Linked DNA regions of Homo sapiens: regions 2 and 3 are each reported to be linked to region 1. The links are microRNA targets in miRTarBase. Many come from high-throughput screens and were not tested one by one. Region 1 holds a microRNA gene; each other region holds the end of a gene's coding sequence.
What was found. Region 1 holds the annotated microRNA hsa-miR-30b-3p (CUGGGAGGUGGAUGUUUACUUC, at 1,015-1,036, shown strand). A microRNA usually pairs through its seed, bases 2 to 8, with sites in the 3' UTR of a target mRNA and lowers its output. Matches are read on the target gene's strand: a 7mer-m8 pairs with bases 2 to 8, a 7mer-A1 pairs with bases 2 to 7 and ends in A, and an 8mer does both.

Region 1 (3,183 bases):
AATCTTGAGAACCAATGCTTTTGGAAAACAGCCCGAAGGGACAAGAGACTAGGTAGAGACTGGCGAGGTTCCTGAAAGTCCTGGGTTACCTGTGAAATGCCAAAGATTTTTAAAGTTTGCTGGCAGTGGTTATTATATGTAGTTTTACTTCCAAATTTGAAGATTTCCTCTTCTTTGATGCAAGTGTGTTGGTAGGACCACTGATAATAGTTAGTGGAGATATTTGTGGGAATATATTTTTAATCAGAAAGAATGCAAAAAGAGGGGGAGACATTTCTTTGAGACACCTTAATGACACTGGGAACAGTAGAAGGTGGAAAGAGATCAGAGTGTGGGAAAGATGTGCCTGAGATGAAATTATCTGAATTCTGAATGTGGGGGAGAAGATGAGGAGAGGGTTGAGGGGGAGGAGAGATGACTAAGCTCCTCACAGTGTTTCATTAACTGTCTTTTACCTAAAGGAGGAATCTTCTTAATGAAGATTGGTTGATGCATCATACTGGTCATCAAGTAAGTTCTTATAAATGCAAGTTTGATTGTTTTGAAGGGAAGGATATAGGAAGGCTGGATAATCAGCTACATTTAGATATGGAACACTACAGGATGTCGGCATTTATTGTTGTAAATTCCTTTGGTGAAAAACGTTATCACTTGTTTGTGACTAGCCTGGGCAATATAGTGAGACCTTGTCTCTAAAAAAAATTTTATTAATAAGAAAAATTAGCCGGGCATAGTAGCGTGCCTGTAGTGCCCCCCACTGCCCTGGACACGCCCCCACTTCCAAAAAAACAAACACCCAACTCACTTCTGCCTTTTCCTTGGATTCTACACTTTCTCTCAGGATATCTTTCCGATTGAGTCTTGCCTCATTTATGTGAATGCTGTGCCTGTTCTTTTTTTCAACAGAGTCTTACGTAAAGAACCGTACAAACTTAGTAAAGAGTTTAAGTCCTGCTTTAAACCAAGTTTCAGTTCATGTAAACATCCTACACTCAGCTGTAATACATGGATTGGCTGGGAGGTGGATGTTTACTTCAGCTGACTTGGAATGTCAACCAATTAACATTGATAAAAGATTTGGCAAGAATAGTATACAGAGGCTTGAATTTTTAATGTAATTAATGTAATTAAAGGTTTGTTGGAAATGTGAGACCATTTTGTTCTCCCAGAGAAAAAGTGTGTTAATTGTCTAGCTGGCAGGGATCTACTTGAATATGTTTGCAGAGAAAAGCAGAAGAAAGCATGGTTGCAGTAGGAGTAGTTAAAACAGAAAAACAGTATGCTTATAGAGGAAAAATTACTCTAAATTTATTAAAATTCCTTTAAATTTGTTACTCAATTTAAATTTTTATTGTATCTTTTCAATTTTGCTATAGCACTAACATGACATAAGGCTCTGGGTATTGGGACAAAAGAATGCCCTTGTTTGGTAGTTGGGGTCGGGTTTGTAGTATTGCAGTGTGCTTTAACAAGCATGGGCTTTGACATCAGACATTTGTTGCCATCTGGACTCCACAAGTGAATTTGCTACGGGATTTGGAGGAGGGAAAGGCACTGTTTCCATACCTCAGTGGTTTTCTCATCTGTAAAATAAGTATGTGATTGCATGGATTGACTTACATGATGAATATAAAGTTGTTCATTAGTACAGTACCTGTCATATTAAGTACTCAATAAATGCTAGTTATTATTAATGCTGTGTTGTAGGTGTTCAGTAAATAGTTGCCATAATGCTTAAAGCAGACATAACTTGTTTTTATTTTTGCAATAAAGATGATGCCAACTTTTTGGTTTAATGGAAATGCTTTGAATCTTTGATATTGTTGTAATATAGTGGCAAAGAATTTTGAATCCCAGCTTCTGGAGCTCATATCTTGATTCTGCGAGTTACTTCGCTATGTTACTTTGGGGGAAGTTATTAATCTCTCTGTGCCTCAGTTTCCTCAGTCGACTAAATTGAAATTATAATAGCACCTACCTGATAGGATTGTTGAGACTAAATGAGGTAACAATTTAAAAATAAGCTAATACCTGATAATTAGTTCTATATATGTACTGATTGGTCTAAACGTTATTTCCATTTTCATGTCTTTACTTAAAATACTGAAAATTAATTTTTTATAGCTTTGTTTTTCAGTTCCATGAAATCAGCCTGCCTTTTCTTTTTTTGGTGATACATCCACATTCTGTATAGGTGAAAAGCAAAACAAACAAGTATAAAACGAAAATTATGTAAGAAGTACACACATCCTAGCAGCTTGGCAAGTGTCTGTATGCTCTTGCCTGTGCCTAAATCCAGAATTAGAATTCATGCTTGGTGCTCCTGTGGAAGATGTCTAAATGTTATGAGAAATACATGATTAAATAAAAATGTGAAATGAAAGCATGGAGACTTGTTGAAGGTGAGTGCTGTTTTTCTAATTATATATTTTATTTGTTTAATGAATAATTTGTTAATTTTCTTTGTCATTACGAGAGAGCTGTTTTATTCTGTACTTAGGTGCATAGCATACTATGTTTTAGTGAGCTCCACATGTTAATTTGAAACTTGCCAAATTTTTACATTATTTTATAATTTATAGTACTTTGAGAAACATATTGCAATGCATTACAAAGCATATAATGTAAAGGTAGTTTTATGAAGTGTTTTTCTCCCAAATTAAGCATATTTGGGAATTGCCCATCAATTTGTTTTTGAACCTCAGTGCATAAAATATAGAATTTTTCTTTCATATGCTAGATGTGAAAAATACTCAGCATATGCATGTGGTTTAGGCTACAAAATAGCCTGTAGGTTAAATTCCTAATTCTAGTGTTTAATTCATTGCCTTTTTTCTTCTTGTTTAATGGCCATATGTTTATATCTTTATATTACATACATTCCTGATTATGTAATAAGGTCTTTGATCATGTGGGCTATCAGATTTGCCTCACTTTGTCTCTTAGAAGAAGCTATACATGAAACTATGTTGTACTTAAGTGAAAATTTGAGTATTTTTCTTGTTTGAATTAATGCAGTGAAACATTCTACTTACAGTTAGCTGTCTCCCACCCTTACAGGAAGGTACATGCCTTCATTTTTTAAAACACTGTATATTTATTAGAATTGTTACAGAATTTTAGTAAATATATTCTAATCACATATTTTCTGATTAATGTGTGCTTATCAGTTTTAAATGTTAT
Region 2 (3,183 bases), not on the chromosome of region 1:
TATAATACCAACAAATATAGAAAAGAATTAGAAAAAAAAATCACCATTTTGCAGCCATAAGAATAAAATGGATTCAGGCAAGAATCATCAATTGATGGTAAATACAAAATGTCATATTTTATGAGGAACGAGATATTTTATATAATGTCAAAGTATCTCTCCCTCAAATTATTTATGAATTATAAGGATAACCAGGTTGATATAATTTAAAAAGCACCCTAATAAGTAATTAACATTAATAACACCAGCAAGGGGAAAATGCCATGTACCTCCAGACGTGATACCATGACACTATTACTTATGCAGTATTCCAGTTAAAAATGCATAACCATGAAGAAACATTGGAGAAACCCAAATTGAGAACATTCTATAAAATAACTAGCTTATATTATTTTAAAATGTTAATGTTGTGAAAGACAAGGACTGAGGACTTTTTCCAGATTAAGAGACTAAATACAATACGTGATCCTAGACTAAATCTTGAACTACAGAAAAATGCCATAAAGGACATTACTGAAACAACAGATATAATTTGAGTGTGAGGTGTAGATTCAGAATATATGCTTAATATTTACTAAACTAGAAGAGCTCTCATTCCAAGAATCCACACACTCCCACCACATCTGAGGATATGCCCTTATACAATACACCTGAGAAGAGAAACTGACAGAACTAAATGATTAATATGTGCTAATAACAGTGTCTAGAGCACTAAAGATAAAAATGAACAAATTAGGCCAGGCGCGGTGACTCACGCCTGTAATCCCAGCACTCTGGGAGGCAGAGGCGGGCGCATCATGAGGTCAGGAGATCAAGACCATCCTGGCTAACACGGTGAAACCCCGTCTCTACTAAAAAATACAAAAAATTAGCCAGGCATAGTGGTGGATGCCTGTAGTCCCAGCTACTCGGGAGGCTGAGGCAGGAGAATGGCGTGAACCTGGGAGGCGGAGCTTGCAGTGAGCCAAGATCATGCCACCGTACTCCAGCCTGGGCGACAAAGTGAGACTCCGTCTCAAAAAAAAAAAAAAAAAAATTAACAAATTAAAACACTGGAAAGGTTTAGAGAAACCATCATCACTCACCTTACTTTAGGGACAAATACATGAATTTGGGTCCTTGTGATTTTTGATAAAGATTTCAAGTTTCTATTATTGAACATAAAACTAGATTCCAAAGGAAATAACTAGAAGAGTTACCGATAAAAAATTTAGATTCTTAATTTTTACACAAAATATCTAAAAACACACATTATACTGTCTTTTGAATTTTAATGACACTAATAGCTTTATTTAACAAACACTGAGTGACTACTATGTGCAAAGCACTATGCTAGGTGCATGAAAGATACAAAGATGAAAAAAGACACAGTCCCTGCCCACAAGGAGCGTATAATCTAGTGAGGGAGACAAATACACAAATAACTAGAATACAAGGCAGTAAACAAGAGTGGGCAAGTGCTGAGTGTGGCCTGAGTGTGATACTAACTAGCCTCAAGGTTCCAATTTGAAACACGATGAAATAGTGTTGTCTGCTTCGAAAATCCCATCCCAAGTTTGGCATAATGGAAGTTAAATGGCCCTACCCAAACAGGTGGAAATAACAGAGTAGGCCAGGTGGAGGCGCTGTTTGAAAGTACTATCACACCTACATACATGGTGCTGATATAAGTACGTAGGTACAGCTAAAAAAGAACTTATATATATATATATATCATATATATATATATCATCTGTCCTTTGGTTAATGGCTATAGCTACTGTTTTAAACAATATACTTTTATATAAAAAGGAATTTGTATAATCCCAGAAAAATCAATTTAAGGATTAATATTAATTCAAGAAAGAATCCTGCCATAGGCAATTTTATTTACTAATTGATTAAGTCTTTTCTCTAAATATCTATAAAGCTCTGTAGCAATTAAACAGTTAGACATCTAAGTATTGCTGAGTAGAAACCTCTTATGTTCAGCCTTCTGAAATAAATGGTCACATACCTGATATATAGCACTATTCTAACAGCAACAAGAAGGCCTTAAAGAGATTTTAAGAAAAATAATTTTTAATGCTTCAATGCAAATGGAGTACACGCTGATTAAATACAACTCAATGTTCTTTGAAAACATCTCAATGACAGCGTTTGATACCAGTTAAGGCCAGCAAAATTGTACTGAGGAAAATATTATTACATGTACTGTCTTTCATTGGTTTCATGTATCATTGCTTATGACTATGGCAACCAAATCTTTTCTTTGACAACTGCATTTATGGGAACTGATGAGCTTTGATTTATGAGCTTTGATTTGCTTTTAGTTCATAGGCCAATAACAAGTGCTGACCACCTCCTCTTGGTAGTGCTGTCTGAAATAACTGGCAAAGTAGAAGCACATTTCCTGGCTCCTTTTCCCACTTCCTGAATTGGAGGGTTCACCACCTTAGCCTGTTTCCTTTCGTGTGTCACTGTGGTCCTGGGTCCTCTGCTGCTTTCTCTCAAGGAAACGAGCCCGTGCATCAGATATGGATTTGTCATCATTTCTTCTTTGCATTTTCTTTAAGACGTCTTTCGATATTCCATCTGAAAACATTACAAATTAATCCAATAAAACTTAGCTTTGAGATTCAGTACTAGAAATGTTAAGAGAAAGAGAAGCCCTGATTTTTCAGTGTTAACAAAGTAAAAACAATAAAGAGAAAAATTAAATTTTGCCCTTTCAAAAGCAATGTAGTCTATGGTTACAAAATTAAGAGCACCAAGGCCAATGAGTCAGAAAAACTGACCCTAATTCAAGCATGTGGCAGTGTTATTACACTGTAATAGAACACCTAGTGGCTAAGATTTCTTTTCTTTTTTTTTTTTTTTTTGAGACGGAGTCTCACTCTGTCGCCCAGGCTGGAGTGCAGTGGCGCAATCTCGGCTCACTGCAAGCTCTGCCTCCTGGGTTCACGCCATTCTCCTGCCTCAGCCTCCCGAGTAGCTGGGACTACAGGCGCCCGCCACCACACCCAGCTAGTTTTTTGTATATTTAGTAGAGACGGGGTTTCACCGTGTTAGCCAGGATGGTCTCGATCTCCTGACCTCGTGATCCGCCCGCCTTGGTCTCCCAAAGTGCTGGGATTACAGGCGTGAGCCACCATGCCTGGCCTCCCTAGTGGCTAACATTTCTAAAGATTTTTCTATGATTTA
Region 3 (3,183 bases), not on the chromosome of region 1:
GGACTTCGAGCCATCTGACTCGCGGGTGCAGTATTTCTGGGAGGCACTGAACAACTTCACCAACGGTCAGTGGAGGAGGGCAGGGTGACACCTGGGTTTGGACTCTGCTGCTGAGTTGCAGAGGCAGGGTAGAAGTTGTAGACCCTCCCTCACCATCCATGCAGGCACTGATTTCCTTCTCCCTCCAGAGGACCGGAGCCGCTTCCTGCGCTTTGTCACGGGCCGCAGTCGCCTGCCAGCACGGATCTACATCTACCCAGACAAGCTGGGGTGAGTGCTGGAGGGAGGCCTGAAGGTGCCATGGCCGCCTTCTGTCCTCCCTCCCCACACACGTACATGTGCCCCAACACATCTTCCTGACCTATGGTCCCTCAATGCCCCCAGCTACGAGACCACAGACGCGCTGCCCGAGTCTTCCACTTGCTCCAGCACCCTCTTCCTGCCACACTATGCCAGGTGGGTTTTTTCCTAGGCTCGATTTGGGGCCCAGGGGACCCCATCACCCCTGGTAGCGATGTAGGGACCTGACCAAGTCCCCATTCCCACAGTGCCAAGGTATGCGAGGAGAAGCTCCGCTATGCGGCCTACAACTGCGTGGCCATCGACACTGACATGAGCCCTTGGGAGGAGTGAGGCGTGCCGCCGGCTGTGGGACCAGCAAGACTGCACGTGTCCCTCTTGGCCTTGCCCAGGGCGAAGACACCTTCCCTGCCCTGGTTTGGCTGACGTGCTCAGCAAAACCCCATGTGCCCTGCTCCTGTGTGCAGTTGGGGTAGGGGCAGCTGGCATGGTCAGGTAACACTAGTGGCCCAGCCCCGCAGACCCACAAGCCCTACCCGTGCTGGGGCTTGCTTCCCGAGGTATTTCACCTCTTAAGAGGGAATCTTCCACAAGCCCAGCACAAGCTGCCAGGCCTGAGCTACTTGAAGGGGGCCATCTAGGTCCCCAACCCATGGACTTTGCCTCCATTTTCAGCTCCGCCTTTTTTCTCCTATTTTCTCTCTGGCTTTCTTCAGCCATGACTCACAACTAAAAACATAAAACACTGGAGGTTAGTGGAGGCCCCTCCCCAAGCAGGGAGCCTGGGATGGGCAGGGAGTGATAGCCAAACTCCTTGGTCACCTGCTCCAAGAAGGAAGCAGTAGCTGAGCACCTGCCCTCACATTCTGCTCTTTTCCCCTCTCCCTCCATACCAGAGATGTGGTGAGCTCTGTTCTTCTACCAACCCAGTCTCAACACACAAAGTGCCACCACCTTCCCTGACTCAGAACCCACATCCACTCAATGTGAACTCTACTACCACGACCTCCCCATATTCCTCACTTCTCCATCACCTCCAGCCTGACTCCCTGTCTGCCCTTTCACCCCCAAGATTTTGCACAGGTTAAGGCCAGTTATGGCCTTTTTGAAATCTGTAATAGCTCCCCTTTCCCCAACTCTAAAGCCTAGACCTTAAACCTGTTCCTAGAGCTATGCACACCCCTGCCCCAGTTTACCGTTCCTCCCTCAGGGCCTCCGTGACACTCCATGAAAAGAAGTTCTTGCATACCGGAAAGTTGAATAAATGGATGAATTCATTCCTTCAGAATGTGTTTATTGGGCCCTGGGCTTAGGCACAGGGTCACAAGGAGAAATTGACTTTAGTGTCCTACTCGGAGCCAAGAAGATGGATGTGAAATGCAAGTAGAGGTTTCTCAGTGACAGACTTTGCACAGTTACATATCTGGGGCTGAGCAGAGACGTAAGGGCCCCACTGCGCAGAAAAGGGAAAACAAGCAAACAGGCTGGCCTGGCATTTTCTGGCATGGATATGGTGATTTGGAGGATGGGAGTCCACTTCTGGAGCCAAGTGGGCAGAAGAATTTGACATCATAGAAGACAGAGACGGGAGGGCTGACAAACCAGCCAGGTCAGGGTTGTTGACAGAAGTGGAGGAAGTAGTGTCTTTATTACCCTGCCCCCAACCCGTTGCAGTCCTTTTTGGGTGTTTGTTTGTTTGTTTGTTTGTTTGGGTCTCTGTTGCTTAGGCTGGCGTGTAGTGGTGCAGTCACGGCTTACTCCAGCCTGGGCCTCCTGGGCTCCAGTGATCTTCCCACCTCAGCCTCCTGAGTAGCTGGGACCACAAGTATGCCACCGCTTCTGGGTAATTTTTTGCAGAGATAGGGGTCTCCCTATGTTGAACAGGTTGTTCTCGAACTCCTGGCCTCAGGCATTCCTCCCACCTCAGCCTCCCAGAGTGCTAGGATTACAGGCCTGAGTAGTCTTCAAGAACAAGTACCTGGGGCCGGCGACTCATACCTGGAATTCCAGCACTTTGGGAGGCTGAGGTGGGCGGACCACTTGAGCCCAGGAGTTGGAGACCAGCCTGGCCAACGTGGTGAAACCCTCTCTCTATTAAAAATACGAAAATGAGCAGGGCTTGGGTGCGTGTCTGTGGTGCCAGTTGGGAGACTGAGGTGGGAGGATCGCTTGAGCCTAGGAGGTGGAGGTTGTAGTGAGCCAAGATCATGCCACTGCACTTCAGCCTGGGCAACAGAGTGAGACCCTCTATCCAAAAAAAAAAAAAGGAGTATCAGGGAGAACCCTGTGTACGAACAGTCCCCCTACACCCCCACAGTGGCCAGTCACGCTCTCAAGCACAGCCCCAGGGTCCCAGTCGTCTCAGAGTCCAGGTACAATGTGAGACCTTGTGGTGGCTGATTGTCCAGATAAGTGGCTTGGCGGAGTCTCGCCCTGGCAACTCTTCCCCTTCTTGTCCTCTAGGGCACTCCCTGACACTGCCCTAGTTGGGAAACTTACTGTGCAAGAGGTTGATCTCTGCCTGCACTGTGTGCACCCTGAGACCTATCCCAAAACACGGAACTTGACAGCTCAGTCTCTCGGCTGCCACCGCCTCCCCTGTACCCCTGCACCTTGGGTGGTGAACCCCCTTCCCTTCCAGGAAGCAGAAGGCACAGAAACCCCCAAGGCCACCACTTCCACCCAGCTCTGCTCTTCCCAAGTCAGGGTGCACCTCTCCCTTCTCTCCCCTCAGGAAAGGGCCCAGGCCACGTGCTCCTACAGGAAGTAGCCAGTTTCTGTGCCTGGTATGGTCACATGAACTCTTTAGTCCCTTTTTTACTCACACTGTATATTTTGTAGCCTGCATTTCATTTAACCCTTCATTCATTCAATAAACTAATA

Region 2: the mRNA of DHX40 is a reported target of hsa-miR-30b-3p. The part of its 3' UTR that is shown has no 7-base or 8-base seed match.
Region 3: the mRNA of HECTD3 is a reported target of hsa-miR-30b-3p. The part of its 3' UTR that is shown has no 7-base or 8-base seed match.

What each region holds. Positions count from the first base shown.
Region 1 is chr8:134,798,385-134,801,567 of GRCh38, reverse strand. It overlaps MIR30B (microRNA 30b), which reads left to right and starts at 961; the gene lies at 961-1,048. It also overlaps a transcript of ZFAT not described here.
Region 2 is chr17:59,606,424-59,609,606 of GRCh38, reverse strand. DHX40 (DEAH-box helicase 40) reads right to left here. Exons shown (of 18, transcript NM_024612.5): 18 at 1,262-2,574. The coding sequence ends at 2,435. Among named protein-coding and RNA genes, the nearest start is that of CLTC, 12 kb to the left of the region's middle.
Region 3 is chr1:45,000,942-45,004,124 of GRCh38, reverse strand. HECTD3 (HECT domain E3 ubiquitin protein ligase 3) reads left to right here. Exons shown (of 21, transcript NM_024602.6): 18 at 1-65; 19 at 189-270; 20 at 385-456; 21 at 549-1,577. The coding sequence ends at 633. Among named protein-coding and RNA genes, the nearest start is that of HECTD3, 8.8 kb to the left of the region's middle.